2 separate regions of the Homo sapiens genome follow, and region 2 is linked to region 1. Evidence: fine-mapped expression QTL. Tissue or cell type: whole blood. Region 1 holds a variant in brackets; the other region holds the start of a gene. All regions are shown on one strand. Distances are between the middles of the regions.

Evidence for each region. PIP is the estimated chance that this variant, and not a neighbour inherited with it, causes the effect.
Region 2: it holds the start of P2RX7, and the variant in region 1 is fine-mapped to the expression of P2RX7 in whole blood (INTERVAL, PIP above 0.99).

What each region holds. Positions count from the first base shown.
Region 1 is chr12:121,163,866-121,171,970 of GRCh38, forward strand. P2RX7 (purinergic receptor P2X 7) reads left to right here. Exons shown (of 13, transcript NM_002562.6): 6 at 1,492-1,572; 7 at 2,193-2,322; 8 at 3,623-3,759. The region is part of intron 2 of LOC105370032 (a long non-coding RNA gene); the gene reads right to left. Among named protein-coding and RNA genes, the nearest start is that of P2RX7, 35 kb to the left of the region's middle. The variant C/T (reference allele first, on the strand shown) is at 3,931.
Region 2 is chr12:121,127,984-121,136,088 of GRCh38, forward strand. It overlaps P2RX7 (purinergic receptor P2X 7), which reads left to right and starts at 4,893. Exons shown (of 13, transcript NM_002562.6): 1 at 4,893-5,112. The coding sequence starts at 4,988. The region is part of intron 2 of LOC105370032 (a long non-coding RNA gene); the gene reads right to left. RefSeq lists an enhancer at 1,003-1,297.

The DNA of each region.
Region 1 (8,105 bases):
GTGGGGCAAAGAGAAAACTGCCCCAAGCTGGCCTGTAGAAGGCTCAGGCGAAGGTTTCCCAATGCCGGGATGGGGGGTGCGCTCAGCAGCATCACCCCTTATGATTCTCAATCGCTAATAGCTCCACTCAGGTTCATTTCTCGGTCAGGGGCATTTCTTTGTCACAGAAGGAATCACCCAGCTCTGGGAGATACAGCAGCCTCCACTCAGGTAGTCCTTGTTCAAGACAAGCGGCCCTTGACTGACTGCAGTTTCAGTTCCAGCTCTGCTATCAACTCACTCATTAAATAAACTGCATCTCCAGTGTGCCTGCCTCTGGGCTGGATTTTGACGTGACCTGGGCAAGCAACTCCCTGAACTTCAGTTTCTCATATATTATATGAATTAGCTAAGATGGTTCGTTTAATCATTCATTCAACACATCCATCACCACGTAGTAGGTGTTAGATATTTATTTCATACGTAACTACGCATAAGAGACTTTGCTAAGTTTTAGGTAAAATACAAGTCCCAGATACGGAGCAAGTCTCAACCACTGTACATACCTGAATGTGTAATTACATCACTGTGAGAGGTGCCACAGTAAATGCCACTGGGTCTTGTGTTAGTCCATTCTCACACAAAGAACTACCTAGCCAGGTGCGGTGGCTCACGCCTGTAATCCCAACACTTTGGCAGGCTGAGGCAGGCGGATCACTTGAGGTCAGGAGTTCGATACCAGCCTGGCAAACATGGTGAAACCCCATCTCTACTAAAAAATGCATAAATTAGCCAGGTGTGGTGGCACACGCCTGTAATCCCGGCTACTCGGGAGGCTGAGGCAGGAGAGTCGCTTGAACCCGGGAGGTGGAGGTTGCAGTGACCCAAGATCGCGCCACTGCACTCCAGCCTGGGTGACAGAGTGAGACTCCATCTCAGAAAAAAATAAAAATAAAAATAAAGAACTACCTGAGACCAAATACTTTACGAAAAAAAAGAGGTTTAATTGACTCACAGCTCCACAGGCTTAACAGGAAGCCTCAGGAGACTTACAATCATGGCAGAAGGCGAAGGGGAAGCAAACACATCTTACCATGATGGAGCAGGAGGCGGGTTTCGGGGGATGTGCCGCACACTTTTAAATGATCAGATCTCGTGAGAACTCACTCACTATCACAAGAACAGCAAGGAGGAAGTCCGCCCCCATGATTCAGTCACCTCCCACCAGGCCCCTCCTCTGGCACATGGGGATTACAATTCAAGATGAGATTTGGGTGGGGACACAGAGCCAAACCATATCAGATCTCAAGAAGGGAGAAATTCTTCTTGGAGGAGCTGGAGGGGCTTTGTGGAGAGTTTCAGAATGCTTTGCCCACTAGGTTTGCTGTATCCATTTCTCTTCATGTATCCCAAAGACCAAGCCAAGAAACCAGAAGCCTCTGGTCCCACTGGCCCATGGGCTCCCTCGGTTCCCCCCGTCACTAATGGCCATTTTGCATGTCTCTCTCCCAGGCCTGCTCTCTTGAACAGTGCCGAAAACTTCACTGTGCTCATCAAGAACAATATCGACTTCCCCGGCCACAACTACACCACGTAAGTGCCCAGGCTGCCTGGCTGTCTTAGTTATCTACTGCTGAGTAATAAATTATCCCAAACCTCAGAAGCCTGAAACAACAAACGCCTATTGTCTCCCACGGTTTCTGTGGGTCAGGAATCTGGGAATGACTTTGCTGCGTGGTTCTGGCTCAAGGTCTGTCAGGTTGTAGCCAAGCTGTCAACCAGGGCTGCAGTCATTTCTAGGCTTGACTGGGGCTGGAGAACACTTTTCCAAGCTCTCACACAGTTGCTCGTGGGAGAGCTCAGTTCCTCACCACGTGAACCTCGCCCTAGACCACTTGAGTATCCTTGGTATATGGTGGCTGGCTTCTCCCAGAGCAAGTGACCCAAGAGAGACAGAGCAAGCAACCAAGAGTATAACCAAGATGGAAGCCACAGTCTTTGGGGGGAGACCCCAACACTTCTGCCATATGCCATTGGTCACACAGATCAACCCTGGTCCAGTGTGAGAGGCCACTGCCCAGGGGTCCCAGGAGGCAGTGATCATTTGGGGCTTTCATGGAACCTCTCCACCACACTGGCTCACTCCTGGGAAAGAGACAGATCTGTTTTCAATCGAGATGTTTGTTTGTTTGTTTGCTTTTAATTATGCACAGGAGAAACATCCTGCCAGGTTTAAACATCACTTGTACCTTCCACAAGACTCAGAATCCACAGTGTCCCATTTTCCGACTAGGAGACATCTTCCGAGAAACAGGCGATAATTTTTCAGATGTGGCAATTCAGGTTGGTGGTGCTTTGTACACTGGGATGTGGGGCTGTGTGTCTAGGGATGGAGGATGTCAAACAGCCAAGAGGCCGGGCCACTGGGTCTTCATAATGTGGCTCACATTTACTGAGCATTTAGTAAATCCACCCGCTACGCTAAGGACTTTACCTACCATACCTCGTCAAATCCCAAAACAATCCTTATGAGTGAGAGCTACTTGGTGTATTCCTTTCCTGTGGCTGCTGTAGCAAGTTATCAAAGCTTAGTGGCTTCAAAGAACACATATTTGCTTATGTTGCCAGAGATCAGAAGTTGGAGATGATTTTCCCTGAGCCAGGGCAGTGCTCCCTCCGGGACTTTAAGGGAGAATCCAGTTCCTCAGCTTTTCCACCTTCTGGAGCTGCATTCCTTGCATTTCTTCAAAGCCAGCAGCATAACATCTTGCCTCAGTGGCCACTTTCACTCCCTATCCTGTGTCCAATCTCCCTTTGCCTCTGTCTTACAAAGAGAGAGAGCATTTACAAGAGGGGGCATTTAAGGACCAACTGGATAATCCAGGATAATCTCCCATCTCAAGATCCTTCATTTAGGCTGGGCACGGTGGCTCATGCCTGTAATCCCAGCACTTTGGGAGGCTGAGGTGGGTGGATCACCTGAGGTCAGGAGTTCAACACCAGCCTGGCCAACATGGTGAAAGCCCATCTTTACTAAAAATACAAAAAAAAAAAAAAAATAGCCGGGCATGATTGCAGGCTCCTGTAATCCCAGCTACTCGGGAGGCTGAGACAGGAGAATCGCTTGAACCTGGGAGGCAGAGGTTGCAGTGAGCCGAGATCGCACCACTGCACTCCAGCCTAGGTGACAAGAGCGAAACTCCATCTCAAAAAAAAAAAAAAAAATCCTTCATGTATTCGCATCTGCAAAGAGCTTTCCCTAGGGGAGTACTAGGAGGTAAAGCAGAAAAGATATTTGATAGAGTGCCCTGAATTCCAGTCTAATAAGTTTGGACTTGATCTTTAATGGGGGCGTGGGGGGCATTAAAGGTGTTTGGGTACAGGAGTGGTCTGTTGAAAGTTGTATTTTAGGACAATGAGTTTAACGGTGATGTGTCCCAGACGGGGGTAGGGAGAGTGAGGAGATGCGATTGTGGCTGCCACAATAACACTTGTGCGAGTTAGGTGGGGCTGTACATATGGTTCTTCAATCAGCATTTTTCCTCTAAAAACCTTAAGCAATCCTGGCTATGCAGGGAGATGTCTGGCGGTTGCGTAACTCACACCCAGCAGCCATAGAGACTGTCCCTTGTTGATCCTTCAGGGCGGAATAATGGGCATTGAGATCTACTGGGACTGCAACCTAGACCGTTGGTTCCATCACTGCCGTCCCAAATACAGTTTCCGTCGCCTTGACGACAAGACCACCAACGTGTCCTTGTACCCTGGCTACAACTTCAGGTAACTCCAAGGCCCAGGTCAAACTCACCCAGTGGCTGAATCGCATTCCCAGGAACTGGTGAGACTAATTTTGGTTTCCAAGGCAACAAGATGAATGAAAAAAGACTTTCTCTAAGAACTAGGTGATAACTGAATTTTTTCCATAATTTTTTAAAATTCTCAAAAGAGATG[C/T]ACACTCTTTATTTTTTACTTATTTTTTTTTTTTTGAAATGGAGTCTCACTCTGTCACCCAGGCTGAAGTGCAGTGGCGCCATCTCAGTCACTGCAAACTTCCGCCTCCCAGGTTCAAGCGACTCTCCTGCCTCAGCCTCCCAAGTAGCTGAGATTATAGGCGGATGCACACTGTTTATAAAACAAAACTATTGGGAAACAGAAAAGCATAGAGGGGGATCAAAATCACCCATAATTCCCCTACCCTGAAATAATCAATAACAACCCTCGGGGGAATTTTCCTCATCTGTACCAATTATTTCATACAGCTCCTATGAGATAATAGCATATATATATATATCTTGTGGTATTCTGCGGGGTTTTTCATACCACAGCCACTCAAAATTCTTTGTAACCATCACATTAATGATCATAACATTCCATTTTGTAGGTGAACAAATAACAACTGCTACAATTCAGGCAGTGTTTTCTTTTCTTTTCTTTTCTTTTTTTTTTTTAGATGGAGTCACACTCTGCTTGCCCAGGCTGGAGTGCAGTGGCATGATCTCAGCTCACTGCAACCTCTGCCTCCTAGGTCCAAGCGATCCTCCCACCTCCCAAGTTTCTGGGACCACAGGCATGTGCCACCACACCCAGCTAATTTTTGTATATTCAGTAGAGATGGGGTTTCACTGTGTTGGCCAGTCTGGTCTCGAACTCTTGACCTCAAGTGATCTTCCCGCCTTGGCTTCCCAAAGTGCTAGGATTACAGGCATGAGCCACTGTGCCTGGCCCAAGGAGGGTTTTCCATATACCAAGCACTCCCCGTCGCCATCCCTAAATCTCCCAACAACCCTGGAAGGAAGATATTGTTTCTGGAAGATGATTTGCCCAAGACCCACAGCTGATAGTACATGTTGCATAATTCTAACCCACGTCACTCTGACCCCACACTCACACTCCATCCCTTCCTTCCCATCTCATGATTTTCTCACCTACGCCTCCATGATTGAATATTTGAGTTGCTTCCAGTTTTTCTATTACAAGTAACCACAGTGTGCATCTTTGCACATAAACTTCTCTTTGAATTCCAGGTTACTTCCTTAGGATAAATTTCTAGACTTATTGAATCAAAGGTTGTGAACATTTTATCATATGCTTTTTATTTTTAAAAATATCTATAGTTATAATGTTTCATTTTTTTTTCTGAGACAGAGTCTCACTCTGTCACCCAGGTTGGAGTGGACCGGGTGCAATTATAGCTCACTGCAACCTCTGCCTCCCAGGCCCAAGTGATCCTCCCACCTCAGCCTCCTGAGTAGCTAGGACTACAGGTGCACGCCACCATGCCCAGCTAATTTTTAAAATTTTTTTGTAGAGTCGGGGTCTCACTATATTGCCCAGGCTGGTCTCAAACTCCTGGCTCAAGCAATCCGCCTGCCTTGGCCTCCTAAAGCGTTGGGATTGCAGGTGTAAGCCACTGCACCTGGCCTATAATTTTCATTTCTAGGATTTTTATTTGGTGCTTTTTCAAAGTCATCTATTATTGTTCCAGTGAGTCCCATTCTTACCTTAAGGATCCTACTCCTTCTGTCCATTCTACTGTATCATTCCTTTCATACCGACCTATTATCTGAAGTAACTTGGGTGGGAGTTCTCCTCGTGGGCTTTGAAATACTGTCTTCAGTAGAAAAGATCTTATGCAAAGTTCTGCATGTGCTGTGTGTTATGGAGTATTCCTTATATATTACTCAAAGCAGCTCCATAAACTGGCAGGCAGCCCCTTAAATGTGTTTCTGTTTCTGTTTTTTTGTTTTTTGGTCTGCATGATGTTTTAAAACTTGAGACAGGCCAGGTGCGGTGGCTTATGCCTGTAATCCCAGCACTTTGGGAGGCCAAGGTGGGAGGATCACTTGAACCCGGGGGTTTGAGGCTAGCCTGGGCAACATAGGGAGACCCCATCTCTACAAATAATAATTTTTAAAACATCAGCCAGGTGTGGGGGCATGCACCTCTGGTCCCAGCTACTCAGGAGGCTGAGGCAGGAGGATTGCTTGAACCTGGGAGGTGGAGGCTGCAGTGAACCGTGGTTGTGCCACTGCACTCCAGCCTGGGTGACAGAGTGAGACCCTTACATGGTGGCCACTGGCTGGAGCTGAGTATCAGTGGTCCTATTTAGAAAGGGGCTGGGCTTTCTGGTTCATCACTGTCCCCGCCACTCCTTAGTGCTTATACCTGGCCCACATCACTCATTTCTGTCATCTGCCTGGCCCCTGTGTAGACGTTTGAGTTTGAAACCCTTGACTCAAAGGCGGGCTGATGCTTTTTGCTTCCTCTGGATCAATGGAATTTCATCCAAGGCAATGGAACCAGCTCCTAATTGTGATAACTTTTTGATCATCCCCTGCCGCTGTGCTGAATAGGCTTATGGCCATTAAGAAGAGAGGACAGGATGAATGGTCCCCTGACTGACTGCCCTTCCAGGGTGTTTTTTTAGCTGTCAGCAGAAGCATGCGGGGCAGTGTACCAATCAGGTGTCAGCAAGTGTCCTTCCAGCGACTGAGTTGAGCACAAAAACATCTGCTCCTGGAGAGACCTGAGCCCTCTGAAGGCCTCAGCCAGTTATGATGTTAATGTTCTTTTAGAACAAAGTGGTAGAGCATTTGTTGTCTGGAATGAGCACCAGAAGAAATCTCTGGCCAAAAATAAATTGTTGAGGGCCGGGAGCAGTGGCTTATGCCTGTAATCCCAACACTTTGGGAGGCCGAAGCAGGAGGATCACCTGAGGTCAGGAGTTCGAGACCAGCCTGGCCAACATGGTGAAACCCTGTCTCTCCTAAAAATACAAAAATTAGCTGGACGTGGTGACAGGTGCCTGTAATACAGCTACTGGGAGGCTGAGGCAGGGAGAACTGCTTGAACCCGGAAGGTGGAGGTTGCAGTGAGCCGGGGTCATGCCACTTCACTCCAGCCTGGGCGACAGAGCAAAGCTCTGTCTTTAAAAACAACTTAAATAAATAAATAAATTGTTGAGGTCTGATGAGTAAGTGGACAAGTTATTTTCCAGCAGACACACAAAAGAGAAGGAAATTACAGGTTATACGAGGTATTTCAGAAAATATAACTTTCTAAAACATAGGAAGTTGAAGAAGTTGATCACATTACAGAATTCTGTTGTTTAGAAAATGACCTGTGGCGAAATGTCCTTATTCAGTGAATAGGTGATTCCGCTTATGCACGACCTGTGTGAAGTGGATCAGGCCACCCAGAATGCACGACGCGCTTCTCAGGCCCAGCAGGAGTATGTGTCTGTGTTAATTTCCTGTGGCTGTTATGACTAATTGCCACAAATGTGGTGGCTTAAAACAACAGAAATTAATCTTCTTATAGTTCTGGAAGCCAGAAGTTTGGAATCAAGATGTCAGCAGGGCCACACTCGCTCTGATGCTCTACGGGAGGGTCCTCTCTTGCCTCTTCCAGCGTCTGGTGGCTCCAGGCATTCCATAACTTTATAGCAGCGTCCCACAAATCTCTGCCTCCATCCTCACATGGCCTTCTCCACTGTGTCTCTATGTCTTCAATCTCTTTTTTTTTTTTTTTTTTTTTTGAGGCAGGGTTTCACTCCAGTCTCCTAGACTGAAGTGCAATGGCGTAATTTCGGGTCACTGCAACCTCTGCCTCCCGGGCTCAAGCGATTTGATCTCTCCTTTATCTTATAAAGATACTAGTCATTGGATTTGGGGCTTACCCTAAATCCAGGATAATCTCATCTTGAGATGTTTAACTTAATTATATCTGCAAACACTGTATTTCCAAATAAGGTCATATCACAGCCACTAGGGATTAGATACTTGAACATATCTTATTTGGGGGCTCAACCCATTCCAGTGTACGAAAAACACTCTTGTTCAAGGCCCGATGTTTCTCAGGGCATAGCCCACTGACTACCTGCATCAGAATAATCACTTGGTACCTGTACTGGAAATACAGACTCCTAGAAACATCTCAGAGCTTCTGCAACCACTCTTTGAGTGAGGGGCTCAGGAGTCTGCCTCTGAACACACTCACCCCAAGTGATTCTTTCTTTCTTTTTTTTTTTTTTTTTGAGATGGAGTCTTGCTCTGTCCCCCAGGCTGGAGTGCAGTGGCGTGATCTCGGCTCACTGCAAGCTCCGCCTCCCGGGTTCACACGATTCT
Region 2 (8,105 bases), 36 kb before region 1:
TTACTAGAGCTGCTTTAATTACACAGATTTACCATCGCTCTTAATATCTCCGTGGTCACCGGTTTATTTGTGAAGTGTTCACCCCATGGCCTCTGGGGACTCACTGTCTTTCGGCTTTCCTCTCCTCCCTACTCTGCCTCAGCTTAGTCTCCTTGGTGTTGGTGTCCTTCAGGGATCTGTCTTCGGTCCCCCTCCATGTCACTCTACCCTCTCCCTGGGCAGACCCCTGGCTCCACTCTTGCCCCTTCCGCCCATTTTCCATGGTGCAGCTAGAGTGCTCTGACTGAGCTGCAAATGAGACCATGCACACCCGTTTATAAACCCACCTATTGTTCTCAGGGTAAATTCCAGACAGACTCTTTAACACCAGAACATAAGGCTGGACGAGATTCAGGTCCAAGTAGTTTGTTTGGGAGGCGACCCAGGAAGAGGAGTGGGGAAGTGAGACAGGAAAGGGAAGGCAGTCAACACAGGAAGCATTAAAGAGTAGGTCAGGAGGCCGGACGCAGTGGCTCACACCTCTAATCCCAGCCCTTTGGGAGGCTGAGGCGGGCGGATCACCTGAGGTCGGCAGTTCTAGACCAGCTAGGGCAACATAGTGAAACTCCAACTCTACTAAAAATACAAAAATTAGCCGGGAGTGGTGGCACGCGCCTGTAGTCTTAGCTACTAGCGAGGCTGAGGCAGGAGAATCGCTTGAACCCGGGAGGCGGAGGTTGCAGTGAGCCGAGATCGTGCCACTGCACTCCAGCCTGGGCGACAGAGCAAGACACTGGAAATAAATAAAACTAATTAATTAATTAAAGAGCAGGTCACGGCTGTGGGCATCTGGGCTCAGACCCCCTCAGGCCCTCTGGAGACTGCCTAGACTTGTCTCAGAGTTGTCCCACCTGGGGGAGGAACGGGTATTTAACCAGCAGTCCCTCAGCCTTGGAGCCTCTATTCTCTGAGAGTCACATTCTCATTCTCTCTCTCCCTCTCTCTCTCTCTCTTCCCACCCCCCTTCTCTCTCTCTCTCTCTCCCGCCATCTTCCTTTCTTTCCTCCCTCCCTTCTCCCCCAACGGAGGTTGGCCCTTGACGCCCTGTGTGATTATGGCCCCGCCCACAGCCATAGCTGATTGGACCAGGGATAAAGAATTAGGCCAATCAGATTCATTCCCCTTGAGTTCTGGAACTGGGCAGGGGATCTGGGCTTGCATTTGAACTGTGGAACCTAACTTGGAGAGCATTGCTGAACCACGTGCCCTGGGAGAAACAGAGGAAGCCAGTGTTTAGAGAGACTCGCAATGGGCACACAGAGACAAACAGAGGCGGGCTTCAGACAAACTGAAAGAGCAACCTCAGCACAGGACAGTTTGGTTTCTGATTCTATTAATAGGTTCTCATGAGGTTGGGCACATTTCCTGCACTTGCAGTCTGTGAGATAAGTGTTTCCTCAAAAAAAAAAACTCCCTTTTCTGCTGAAGAATGTCACTTGATTTTCTGTAAATTGTAAACACACCCACACACTCACAAGACTAAGAAATCCACCGTTCAATCCCCAATTTTTTTTTTTTTGGTAACTTTATATTCCTTCCATCACGAGGTCAGAACATTTCATTGCTGCTGTGAGACTCTCCAGAGTTCTCATTAAAGAGTTCAAGACAATGGCTGTTCCGTTAGCCTCGATCTCTGAGTGATTACAGAGAGCTGAGCCATCTGGGAGACCCATGATGGACATATAGTGTGAGTGAGAATTAATTCATCACTGCTATAAGCCATGAGACACTGAGAGTGCTTTGTTATTGCAGCATAACCTGTCCTATCCTGATAGAATCATAAGAAGTGCTGAGAGACAATTTGCTGGAACTGATATTTACAGGGAGAAGAGAGCCAGAGAAAGATAAGACAAAGATTGGATGCAGTGGCTTATGCCTGTAACCCCAGCACTTTGGAAGGCTGAGTCAGGAGGATCACTTGAAGCCAGGAGTTCGAGACCAGCCTGGGCAGCATAGCAAGACCCTATCTCTACAAAATTAAAAAAAAAATTAACGAGGCTTGGTGGCATGTGCCTGTGGTCCCAGCTACTCAGGAGGCTGTGGTAGGGGGATCACTGGAGCCCAGAAGTTTGAAGCTGCAGTGAGCCATGATTGCGCCACTGCACTCCAGCCTGGACGACAGAGCAAGACCCAGTCTCTAAAATAAATTAATTAAATTAATTTTTTAAAAAGAAAGATAAGATAAAGAGTCATAGAAGTACAAATGAGAAACCAGGAGAACATGGGACCCAGGAAAGTCATGGAAACCAAGGGAAAATACTGGTCCAAGATGCAGAAAGTAGCCAGTGATGTTGAATGCATCCAAGAGATCAAGTAACATAAGGAATAAAATATATCCACCCAGTCTGGCAACTGAGAAGTCTTTGGTAACCTCTTTGAGAACAGAATCCATGGAGTGGAGGAGGTAGCAGTGATGAAATAGCGGACAAGGGCTGAAGGAGTGGAGAGGGGAGAGCATGAGGGACCAGTGCAAGAGTGCAGCAGAAAGACAACAAACAGGCCGGGTGTAGTGGCTCACGCCTGTAATCCCAACACTTTGGTAGGCTAAGGCGGGCAGATCGCTTGTGACCAGGAGTTCGAGACCAACCTAGCCAACATGGTGAAACCCCATCTCTACTAAAAACACAAAAATCAGCTGAGCGTGCGCATGGCTGTAATTGCAGATACTCATGAGGCTGAGGCACAAGAATCGCTTGAACCCAGGAGGCAGGGGTTGCAGTGACCCAAAGTCTTGCCACTGCACTACAGCCTGGGCAACAGGGGGAGACTCCATCTCAAAAAAACAAAAAAAAAAAAAAAAAAAAAAAAAGAAAGAAAGAAAAGAGAAAGAAAGAAAGACAAGAAAATAGATGTCTTTGAGTGGTAGCAAGAGCAACACTGAAGTGATTTGCCTATTCTGGACATTTCCTATAAATGGAGTCGTAAAAGATGTATCCTTTTGTGTCTGGCCTCTTTCACTTAAGCGTAGTGTTTTCAAGGTTCATCCATGTTGGAGCATGGGTCAGTGTTTCATTCCTTTTTATGGCTGAATAATATTCCCTTGTATGGGCTTTCGTGCTTTTGTGTATCCATCCATCAGCTGATGGACATTTGACTTGTCTGCCTGTTCACTGCCATATCTACTATTCCTGGTGCTCTTGGGAATGAGTGAATGAATAGCATAAACAGAGCTGTCCAGGGTCACAGAGCTGGTAAGATGTGAAGCCAGGATCGGAAGCCAGGCCATTAGTCCCCTAGAGCCTATGTTCTAAGCATCAGGCTTTACCTGTGAATCTCCTCTTTTTACAGATGAAGATGACCGTATCACTCAGATTCCCGGCAGGAAAGCAATGGCATACTCAAGTGGGGTAACTAATGATGGAACCATTTACAAAGGTGTGGACAGAGTTAAGAAAAAGCAATAGGAGATAGTGAGCTTCCTGGGGCTGGTAAGAGTGGGGAGCCCTTACCACTCCCAGGACTAAAGGAGGGAGTGGTGCCCAGAAGCCCTGCCTATATGCAACTGAGAAGGGCAGGGCCAGGGAGTCACGTCCATCCTCACTGCTCTCCAGTCTCCTGAACTGGAAGCCAGAAGGTGAGGGGAACCCTGATGCAGTTTGTATGTGTGAGAAAGTACAATTAGTTTAGACTGAAAAACTGAAAATCTACCCGGCCACTTAGCAGGCTGGAATAACAGAAAGGGATCAAGCCAGCTGTAAAGATAACAGGGAACAATAATTCTCTGTAGCTGTAAAGTGATAATACAACCCTGCATCTTTGAGTGACTGCTGAAACATTGTCCTTTAAAATCAGAGACCTTCAGAAACTTTGCTGTTTGAAATTACATGACTAAGACTGAAATATTCCAATTTTGCCTGGAAGATTTAAGTCATCTTGACACAGAGAAGCAGCCTCAATTTACAACTCAGGAGCAGAGCTTCAGATAAAGATTTTCTGGACACATTTGACATGTATCTTAGCTATGTTGCTTCCTAGGAAACAGGGCCCTGGGTCCTCTTTGCAATCCAGACTGAAGTTGACTGCTTTGTACAAACCTGTTTTGCTTTGAGTCCATCAAAACATGACTTCATTTAGATTTTATCTCAACTCCACTTTCCTCGGAATCCTATAATAAATTGCTGTTTTCCTTTGTTTGGTGATGTGCGTAGCTCTTCTGGTGGGTGGTGTCCCTCACTGAATAGGTCAACAAACCTAACTTTGTTGGACTGCCACTGTGTCCCTGGTGATCTTTGGCTGATTGGTCTAGGTCATAGATCGACCTGCCGGGGTGCAGAGGAGGGTGGAGAGTAACTCAGAGGGTCAAGCATGAAAGATCTGGCAGAAAAATAAAGCCCCTCCACCCCCACCACCCCTACCCCTGCAAATCTGATTTCCCCCACCAACTGCAGACCAGAGTATTATAAGGGGCGGTGGAAGAAGAGGGGGAGATCTTCATTTACCCAGAGCTCCTATACATCAGGGGCTGAATAAAGGGTTGTAGAAATGAATGAATCAATCTCTGAGTGGGGCTTCAGGCAATGGAAAGATCTCAGTCCTTTTCTGAGGCATAATGGAAGCTCCCAGTCTTGTGACATTTGCAAGGCTGCCCCTTTCTCCCAAGAGACATGAGACCAAAAAAGTGAAAGGAAAGGGGGGAAAAGGGAGAATTCTAAAAATGCCCATCCTCTGAACACCATCTTTGTGTAGGCATCTGGGGGAGGCCAGCTGGGGTGAGGTCATCTGCCAGCCAGGCCCGTAGGACTTGGCGCTTCTTGTTTATCACAGCCACATGTGGGGCCACTGCCAGGGCCCGCCCCAACTCTGCAGTCATTGGAGGAGCTTGAAGTTAAAGACTCCTGCTAAAAACCAGTACGTTTCATTTTGCAGTTACTGGGAGGGGGCTTGCTGTGGCCCTGTCAGGAAGAGTAGAGCTCTGGTCCAGCTCCGCGCAGGGAGGGAGGCTGTCACCATGCCGGCCTGCTGCAGCTGCAGTGATGTTTTCCAGTATGAGACGAACAAAGTCACTCGGATCCAGAGCATGAATTATGGCACCATTAAGTGGTTCTTCCACGTGATCATCTTTTCCTACGTTTGGTAAGTGGGATCTGGGGAGGACCCAGATCTCTGCAGTGGCCGACAGCACAGAAAGCCCCAGCGGGCAGCTTCAGGTGCACATTCTGAATCTCACATGGTTTTCGAATCTGAGACGTGCTCTCACAGCCAGCTGGGCGGGAGGGAGGAAGCAGCAGCAGGCAAGAGGAAACGGTGCCAGGCTGCAGCAGAGAGAAGCCACAGGACAAGCGGGATTCCTTTCTGCTCTACTTCAGGCCCGCCAGGGCGCGCAGGGCAGGGCGTGCCTGGGGAAGGTAGGAAAGCGCAGGGCAACACCCTGGATCCCCAGGGAGGAGGCGAGGATCTCAGGGCACGCCTGGTGATCATGCTGGCATCTGAGTCACCATGCTTGGGAGGAATAGGACCAGGCTTGAAAATGTGTTATAACTTTAGGTCCTCACCAACGTCAGGAAGGCCCTGCTTTTTGGTTTTTGTTTCTTCTAAAAGAAACTTACTGAGATATAATTTATACACCATACAATTGACCCATTTAAAGGGTACCATTTAATGATTTTCAGATTATTCCCAGAGTTGTGCAACCATCCCCACAATCAATTTTAGAATATTTTAATCGACTCAAAAGGAATCCCACACTCCTTCACCATCATTTCCAACACTGTTCCTCCTCCTTCCCACCCATCAATTTCCTTTCTGCCTCTATGGATTTGCCGATTCTGGACATTTCATATAAATGGAATCACATAATATGTGGTCCTTTGTGGCACTTAGCGTGTTTTCAATGCTCATCCATGTTGTAGCATGTGTTGATACTTCATTCAATTTTTTTTTTTAAAGAGACGGGGTCTCACTATTTTGTCCAGGCTGGTCTCAAACTCCTGGACTCAAGTGATCTGCCTGCCTCGGCCTCCCAAAGTGTCAGGATTACAGGCGTGAGCCATTGCACCCGGCTGATACTTCATTCCTTTTTACGGCTGAGTAGTACTCCATTGCATGGATAGACCACTTTTTTCTATCCATTCATCCATTGATGGACATTGGGGTTGTTTCTCTTTTTTGGCTATCATGAATAATGCCACATGAACATTTGTGTACAAGGTTTTATGTGGATATATATTCTCCTTTCTCTCGAATATGTACCTAAGAGTAAAAATTGCTAGGTCATATGTTAACTATGTTTCACCTTTGGGGGGAATGTGGAGCTGAATTTCACAGCAGCTGCAGTTTTTTACATTCCTATCAGCAGAGTATGAGGGATCCAATTTCTCCACATCCTCACCAACGCTTGTTATCGTCTGTCTTTTTGGGTTTTGTTGTTGTCATTTTGTTTTTGTCTTTGAGATGAAGTCTTGCTCTGTTGCCCAGGCTGGAGTGCAGTGGCGCAATCTTGGCTCACTGCAACCTCCACCTCCCCGGTTCAAGCGATTCTCCTGCCTCAGCCTCATGAGTAGCTGGGATTACAGGTGTGCGTCACCACTCCTCACTAATTTTTGTATTTTTAGTAGAGATGAGGTTTCGCCATGTAGGCCAGGCTGGTCTCAAACTCCTGACCTCAAGTGATCCGCCCACCTTGGCCTCCCAAAGTGCTGGGATTACAGGCATGAGCCGCCACGCCCGGCTGATTGTCTGTCTTTTTTATTATAGCCATGCTAGTGGGTGTGAAGTGGTAGTTCATTGTGGTTGTGATTTGAATTTCCCTGATGGTGAGTGCCTCTTATTCTCTGTGCTGATTGATAATGATGATGAAGGCAATTTGTATCTATAGAGTGGCAGTGTAGTTTACTAAGAGTTAGGGTAACTTATTTCATAGTACTGGCTATGTCTTCTGGGCCAAGTCATTAACTTCTCTGAGCCTCAGTTTCTGCATCTGTTCATAGGGTTGTGGCAATTAACCAAAAAAAAAAGGCATGAACAGCCCTTATCATGATGACTGACATAGGATAAGAGCTCCATAACTAGTATCTATTTTTAAAAATAATCTTTTTAAGTCTGGGAGTGGTGGCTCACACCTGTAATCCCAACACTTTGGGAGGCCAAGGCGGGTGGATCACGAAGTCAGGAGTTTGAGACCAGCCTGGCCAATATGGTGAAACCCCATCTCTACTAAAAATACAAAAATTAGTGGGGAGTGGTGGTGCACACCTGTAATCCCAGCTACTAGGGAGGCTGAGGCAGGAGAATCGCTTGAACCCGGAGGCGGAGGTTGCAGTGAGCCAAGATCAAGCCACTGCACTCCAGCCTGGGTGACAGAGCAAGACTCCATCTCAAAATAATAATAATAGTAATAATTTTTTTGATTATATAATAGTATATATGTATATAAAATACATGTATGTATTTTTATCTATATCCTCTGCTCTGACCCTCAAAGTAACCACGTCCAAGTTCAGGATTTGAAATCTGGAAACGTGGATTCAAAAATCCTTCACCTCTTTGAGCCTTGGTTTCATCATCTGTAAAATGGGGAGAATTGTTGATAGGAATATTAAATGAACTAATAAATGCAAAGCTGTTTGAGAAATATATGGCATATAGTAATCCCTGATTAAGTGTTAGTTCTTATTATTAATAATGCTATTATTAGGATTATTATTATTCGATTCATATGTTTACTGTTCAACAAATATTGAATGATAAACATATATGCTGGGTCCGGCATGGTGGCCCATGCCTGTAATTCCAGCACTTTGGGAGGCCAAGGCGGGCAGGTCACTTGAGGTCAAGAGTTTGAGACCAGCCTGGCCAACGTGGTGGAAACTCCATCTGTGCTAAAAATACAAAAATTAGCCGGGCATGGTGGTGGGTGCCTGTAATCCCAGCTACTCGGGAGGCTGAGACAGGAGAATCACTTGAACCCAGGAGGTGGAGGTTGCAGTGAGCCAAGATTGCACCACTGCACTCCAGCCTGAGCCACAGAGCAAGACTCTGTCTCAAAAAAAAAAAAAAAAAAAAATATATATATATATATATAGTATTTTTAGTAGAGATGGGGTTTTGCCATCTCTTATATATTTTTA